Homo sapiens: one gene and its partner. The protein of the gene in region 2 purifies or fractionates together with the protein of the main gene of each other region. This does not show direct contact. Each region holds a gene or a part of one and is shown on either strand. Other genes may lie near its edges.

Region 1 (3,819 bases), on a different chromosome or scaffold from region 2:
CTCAGCCTCCCAAAGTGCTAGGATTACAGGTGTGAGCCACCATGCCCAGCCCCACCACACTTTTGAGTGAAGGCTAGACTCACTATCTAGCCCACAAAGTCCCCATGTGATGTGGGCTCTGCTTGCCTTTTCCACTTTACCTCATGCAGCTCTCCCACTTCACTCACCTTGCTCTGTCCTTCGGTCACCTTCCTTCAATTCCTCAAAAATTATAAATTATTTATTGCCCCAGGGCCTACAAACTTGGGTTCCTTTTCTGGCTGAAACATTCTCCCTAGCTCTTTTCACAAGACTGGCTCCTTCTCAGACTGCAGTTCACCTTCCCTATAACATAGCTGTCTGGCACACAGTAGGAGCTTACCAGGTATTTGTGAAAGGAACAGATTTCACATTCTCCAGTCAGGTAACTCCCAAAAGTGAATATCTGGAATCAATCTCACCCTTCAGATCAGTGCTTCATTTCTAAATGCCTGCTAAATTTCCATACCTCAAACTTAGCATACTAGATATAAAACCAACTCTTCCATTTTCCCAAACCAGTTTCTCCAGTTTTCTGAAATTACATGAGCAATATGATCCAGTTTCCACTTCAGAACAATAAATTTCCCATTCATTTGCTCTACCTGTCCAAAATTCCAATCACCTTTAAAGCTAAATTCAAATATCACTTCATTCAATCATGCATTCAATCAACCACTTATTCATTCAACAAGTACTTACTGAGTGCCTTTTATGAGGCAGACACTATGTTAGATACTCGAAAGCAAAGCAGATGTATTTTTGTCTATTATACATCAAACAATCATATAAATATTGAATTATGAACTAAAAAAAAAGTAATGAAGGAAAAATGCCAGAAAACATGAGAAAAAAATGAGAGGCATCAAGAAACACTGTTCTGATGATGGGCTGATTTAATGAAATATAATTTACACTAGGCAGACTGGAAAGAAGAGCATGCTAGATAGGATTCAATCAAGTCCTAGAAGCAGGAGAGATGAGATCTATCTCAATGTACATATCATCTTGCCTTACATATTATATCTATCTATCCCCCCCCACCATACTCATTTTACTGATAGTTACCTGAAAGAAAGGACATAGAGTGTCTCTTATGTGCCAACACAACACCCCCAGGAGACACTGAGTCACTGGTCTGGTACCTAGGAGCTTATGCTTGTAAAAAGCTCCCAGATGACTCTATATGCAGCCAAATTTGTAAATCATATGCCCAAACTACCCATTTAATAAACATATATTGATTATTCTTTCATGAAAAATCTCTAAGGTCAGTGTGGTAAATTGTATCTAAAATTGGTGGTAGGCCAGGTGCGGTGGCTCACGCCTGTAATCCCAGCACTTTGGGAGGCCAAGGCGGGCAGATCATAAGGTCAGGAGTTCAAGACCAGCCTGACCAACATGGTGAAACCCCGTATCTACTAAAAATACAAAAATTAGCCAGGCGTGGTGGCAAGCAACTGTAATCCCAGCTACTCAGGAGGCTGAGGCAAGAGAATCACTTGAACCCGGGAGGCAAAGGTTGCAGTGAGCCGAGATTGCGCCACTGCACTCCAGCCTGGGTGACAGAGCGAGACTCTGTTTCAAAAAATAAAGTTGGTAGTAATAATCCCAATCACATTGCATGCCCTTTTGCAATGTGATTTTTACCCTCTATCCTTTAGAGGTGAAGTCAATGTCCCCTCCTCTTGTATCTGGGCTATAATTGTGACTTACTCTGACAAAAAGAATGGGGCAAAAGTGATGATGTATGACTGCCAGGCCTAGGTCTTATGAGATCCTGCAGCTTCCATTATGGCCCAGCCACCATGTAAAAGAAGCTCGAGCTAGAATTTTTTTTTTTTTTTTTTTTTGAGACGGTCTCGCTCTGTCACCCAGGTTGGAGTGCAATGGCACAATCTTGGCTCACTGCAACCTCCGCCTCCCATGTTCAAGCAATTCTCCTGCCTCGGCCTCCCAAGTAGGTGGGATTACAGGTGCCCACCACCATACCCAGCTAATTTTTGTATTTTTAGTAGAGACGGGGTTTCACCATGTTGGTCAGGCTGGTCTGGAACTCCCGACCTCAGGTGATCCACTCACCTCGGCCTCCCAAAGTGCTGAGATTACAGGCATGAGCCACTGCGCTCGGCCACTCGATATAGGTTTATAAGTGATGAGAGACCAAGAAAGAGAACTCACAGAGAACCAAGATATCCCAGCCAACAGCTAGCTCCAAAGGTACAGACATGTGCAGCCTTCTTGGATCCTCCAGCTCAATCAGCATCATATGGGACAAAAAAAAATATGTCCTCCTTTCCTGAATTACTAACCCACAAAATCATAGGCAATAAAATGGTTGTCATGTTATGCCACCAAAAGTCTTCGGGTAATTTGTCACACAATAGACAACTGAAACAGTCAGAAATTCAACACTCTCTTGGGCAGTCATTCAAACATTTCCCCACTTTGATGATCAAAAAATTCTTTCTCGTATTCATCAAAATTGCTCCTCCTTCAATTTAAGACCATTTCCTCTTAAATCTTTGAAGTTCATGAAGAATAATTAATAAAAATCCCCCTGGCAAAACTATTCTTGTATTTGAAGATGATAATGAAGTTATCTCTTAGCTTTTCTTTCTCTAGGCTAAAATCTTTCCCCCCTTTTTAAAACTTATAATGATAAGACCTGTTTTTCAACCTTTTAATCATTTTAATTATCCTCTCAAGTATGAGAGACCCAAAATTGAACACCATATGCCAATATCTAACAGAGATTATTTCCTAGCTCTAATGGTTCAGCTTTTTATAATGGAATTTCTCATAGTCCCAAATATGGCATTTTAGCACTCCAAAAGTTGTGAAGTGATCTAAAAAGTTAATTACTTACTATAACTGTAAAAGGTTTTCTGCCCTTAACACTCAGCTTACTCCATTTTGGGATGACCGCTTTCACTCACCAGCCTGGTTTGATACTCCACCAGGGCAGCAGGTTTTCACAACTTCCAGATATTTGAAGTATAAAAGAAAAACCTGAGAGGTTGGAGTACGCACACCATTAATTTCAATCAAGGTCTCTAACCACAACCAGGGCCTTCCCATAGGTCAGGCAGGTTCAGAGTACCTCCTCCTCCTACCTTGATGATAAAGTGGCCTTGTAAAAGGCAAGACCGTTAGCACTTGCCTATCGAGCAAAGGCACCATTTCTGTGGAACCTGATAGAGTATATTTAACTACTATATTAAGAGACAAACCAGCTGCTTAATGCAGTGTAAGAACCATGTTTTCTCTCTGAGTCTTACCTAAATGTATATATGCTTTGGTATCAGACTAGCTTTATAATCACTGGTAAAATAGGGATAATAAATAAAGCCTACCCAACGCAAATAAAACCATATGAGGGAAATAATTTTGTAAAACACCATAAAAATGTCGTGATATTGCGGGACTAGATCTCAGCAAACCCTTTAAATCTTCAAATTAACTTTGAATGATTACTTGATGGTGGCAGGTAACACATACAAAATAAGCAGCCATGGGCTCATGTTCATCAAATAGGAATGAAAAACCATGCCATCTAACAAAAAAGCTTCTAATATTGCAAAGAATAACGGTTTGAGCCCGGAGATCCACGTCAGCCACTCTCTCTGATGGTGCCAAGCTCTAGTCCAGGGACACCAAGTTCAGTCAAAGAACTCAACAGTCTAGTGGAAGAGACAGACAGTGCTGTCTGTCAGAAAAGACAGAGAAGTCAGAGAAGATGCATATATGAACTAAGTGTCCTGAGGGATGAGTATCTTGCCAGTTAGAGAAGGGAGAGTC
Region 2 (3,819 bases):
AAGCAGAGATCTGAACCCACATCTCCCTGGCTGCTCAGTCAACTCACTCTTCACAAAGCTTAGAAAGTGGCCGGGCACAGCCAGACTCTGTCTCAAAAAAAAAAAAAGGTTGGTTGAGGCTTATACTATGTGTGCTGCTTGGCACTGTTTTTTTCACTTAAAAGATATTGCAGGTTTTTTTTCACGTAAGTATCTGAAGAAAGACTTCCTTTTTTTTTTTTTTTTTTTTTTTTTTGCTTTTTTGCTTTTTTGAGACAGGGTCTTGCTCTGTTACCCACGCTGGAGTGCAGTGGTGAGATCAGGGCTCACTGCAGCCTCCACCTCATGGGCTGAAGCCATCCTCCCACCTCAGCCTCCCGAGTAGCTGGGACTACAGGTGTGTGCAACCACATCTGGCTAGTTTCTGTATGTTTTGTGAAGATGGGGTCCCACTATGTGGCCCAAGTTGGTCTTGAACACTTGGGGTCAAGTAGTCCTCCTGCTTTAGCTTCCTAAAGTGCTGGGATGACAGGCCTGAGCCCCGCGCCCGGCCAGCCTCCTGTGCGAGGTTGTGTGGGACTCTGTCATGGAACCCAGTATGCCTTCATGTGCTGGCTTGTTTGTTGACTCTGTAGTTAATGGGCTGCCCCACGTGGACAGGCACTGGGTCATCCATGTCTCTGTGTACAGGCAGAGGCTGCTGCGGGTACATCTGTGCACATGGCTGCCAGGAGGGGCTGTGCTCAGGGGGAGCTGGGGCAGAGGCTGGTGGCAATGGGGGGCTTGGGTGTAGTGTGGAGGCACGAGAGCCAGGTGGCCGGGCTGCAGTCTGCGGGAGCTCGGGGGTCACTTGGCCTCTGTGTGTCCTAGTGTCTTTGTCGGTGAGATGGGACAATGACAGCACACCCTCACAGGTGCTGGGGGTTGACAAATGTCAGGTCTGAGGACAGTGGCTGGCCCACTACGGGGCCAGTTTCCCTTCTCTATAGTCACCCTGCTCGTCTTCCATCAACTGGGTGCTCAGGACAGTGGCGTGGTGGATCCGCCTGTACAGCCTGTGCTCCAGCGTCCTGCAGTCCACAGCTGTGTCCAGCCCTGACCCCGACTGCCGCTCTCGCCACCTCCATTTTATAGATGAGGAAACCGAGGCCCAAGGGCTTAGGGAACCCTGCTCTGAAGCACATAGTAGGGCTGCTGGGCTCAGACCCTCCCTCCCTGTGCTGAGGTGTCCTCCTCCTGCCTCAAGCCCCCCACGCCCCGAGCCCACCCTGCTCACCGGCCTCTGCCCGAGTTCCCCGCATAGTGTGGGAGTGTGGAGCATCCTAGCTTTTCCCCAGCGCCCAGTTCTTTCACTTCCACTGGAGTCCTGCAGGGACAGCTCGGGCACCATGTAGGCCCGGGTGGGCGTGGGGGTTCACCTAGCTCGGTGGTGAACAGCTGGCATGTCTCTGGGTTGCGGACGGTAAAGGCCACGTAGACCTCAGGAGCCCGCTTGTGCTCCCGGCAGGCAGCCAGCCTCTGCAGGACCCCGACCAGCGACACGATGGCTTCTGGGCAATACAGCACGTCTACGGTGAAAGTTTCAGGTTACTGAAAGGGACAAGTGGAAAGTTCCAGTTCATGCTGACCTCAGCAGCAGGGCGAGGCCAGAGAGGCAGCGGTCATATGAGACTATTAGATGCCATTTGACCATTTGGGCCATTAGATGGAAAGGCAATTATTTGGGTGAAAAAGGAGAACCCTTATTAGAGAAAGCTGCAAAAGACCGAAGCAAAAGAAAAAAATCTCCAGACTCACTGGTGTCCTTAAAAAACCAGCTCTGGTTCTCGGCCTGTCTAGAGGGCTTTCAATGACAGAAAGCCTGACCCTGCCGTGAACTTCGTGTTTCAGGTGTCTGCCGATTGGTCTGCTGGCTTGCAGGGGTGGGCCTGTGTCCCTGGCCACCGCTGGACCTGTGGGTTTCAGGGCTGGGACCCAGGACTACAGGCAGAGTTCTGTTCCACCAGAGAGGGGACTGAGTGTGCTCACAGGGGTGAGGGGTTTTCGGTGGCCCAGCCAAACAGCACCTTCTCTCAAGGGCCCTGACCTCGTACCAGAAGTGGTTGTTTTCCTCCTGCGGTCTCTGAAGGACACAGGGCATGGCTCTGGGACAGAGCCATGTGGTGACGACTGTAACGGGAGTATGCCTGTCTCCAACAACAGGGCTGTGGCTTGAAGGTCACCTTAAGAGGCACCCCTGTCCTTTGATGTCACCCTGGAGGCCCAGAGTAACTCTTCTGGAAGCCCCATCACGTCCATGCCCGACAGTGTCCATTGTTCCCTTTTCCCAGAGCCAAGAGCTGGGTAGAGCTGCAAGGACACCGCCTGCACAGGATGCCCGGGGCTGGGCATTACCTGCTGCAATGACAACATCTGGCTGGAAGGCAGAGAGCTGATGGACCATTGCTACGTCCCAGTCCAGCTGGGCCACTGTCACCCTGGGGCTGTCTAAGTTGCCAGTGATGTCTGCCTCTAATGAGAGGCCATTGAGAAGGACATTCCCTCGGAGCTGCTCGAGGATCCGGCTGTGAGGGTCGCTGAAGATGTATGCCCGGGGGCGGCACATCTTGCAGATGGCAAGGCCTGTGAGGCCGGCACCACTGCCAAGCTCTAGGACAGTCCTGGCGGGAGGAAAGGGGACCGTGTTTTCGACTGCACCAGGGTAAGCCTGCCTCGGTGCCCTGCCCTGTGCCCCAAGGTCACCTGTTAATGAAGGCTGCCGGGTTCTCGATGGCCCATTCTGCAAGGTAGAGGGCGGCATCCCATGTGACCAGGCCTGTGGTACCGTGGGAGATGATGGCTGTGCTCTTGGAGAGTGTGACTGAGCCTCCTGAGGACTGCACCAAGAGAGGGCGAGAGAGTCAGTCCAGCGATCAGAAGGCAAGTGGCTTAGAAGACAAGTAGCCATCCACCACATGGCTGAATAAACCATGACAGGACCAATCGCCACTCAGCAATGAGAAGCAGCTAACTGTTGACATACCAACAGTTGCACGGGCCTCAAGGGTGTCACGCGGCATGAAAGACACTCATCTCAGGCCACACAGGATTCCATCTATTGAACATTCCTGAGACAACGGAATTCTGGCGATGGAGCACAGGTCAGTGGTGGCCAGGGGCCAGGTGTGGCTATGAAGAGGTGGCTGCCTTGTGATGATTCAATATGCTATGTTTTTCCTTTGTGGTTTTCTGTATCTATGTTTTATCTCATTTTTTTTTTTTTGAGCTCTGTCACCCAGGCTGGAGTCAGTGGCACGATCTTGGCTTACTGCAACATCTGCCTCCTGGGTTCAAGCAATTCTCCTGCCTCACCTGCCCAGGTAGCTGTGACTACAGGCGTGTGCCACCATGTCTAGCTAATTTTTGTACTTTTTTTTGAGACACAGATTCACTCTCGTTGCCGAGGCCGGAGTGCAATAGCACGATCTCGGCTCACTACAACCTCCACCTCCCGGGTTCAAGAGATTCTCCTGCCTCAGCCTCCCGAGTAACTGGGATTACAGGCGCCCACTACCACACCCCGTTAATTTTTGTATTTTTAGTAAAGATGGATTTTCACCATGTTGGCCAAGCTGGTCTCAAACTCCTGACCTCAGGTGATCCCCTTGCCTCAGCCTCCCAATGTGCTGGGATTACAGACATGAGCCACCACGCCTGGCCTAATTTTTGTATTTTTAGTAGAGACAGGGTTTCACCATATTGGCCAGGCTGGTCTCGAACTCCTGACCTCAGATCCACCCGCCTTGGCCTCCCAAAGTGCTGGGATTACAGGCATGAGAGACCATGTCCAGCCCTGTCAAG

The links.
Region 1: the proteins of FAM86B2 (region 2) and RFFL purify together in Homo sapiens (co-immunoprecipitation; one large-scale study listed by IntAct). This does not show direct contact.

Annotation. Positions count from the first base shown.
Region 1 is NC_000017.11:35,057,168-35,060,986, forward strand, and holds part of RFFL (E3 ubiquitin-protein ligase rififylin), read right to left. Parts: intron 1-3,819.
Region 2 is NC_000008.11:12,426,260-12,430,078, forward strand, and holds part of FAM86B2 (putative protein N-methyltransferase FAM86B2), read right to left. Parts: intron 2,856-3,819; coding exon 2,722-2,855; intron 2,640-2,721; coding exon 2,374-2,639; intron 1,548-2,373; coding exon 1,398-1,547; intron 1-1,397.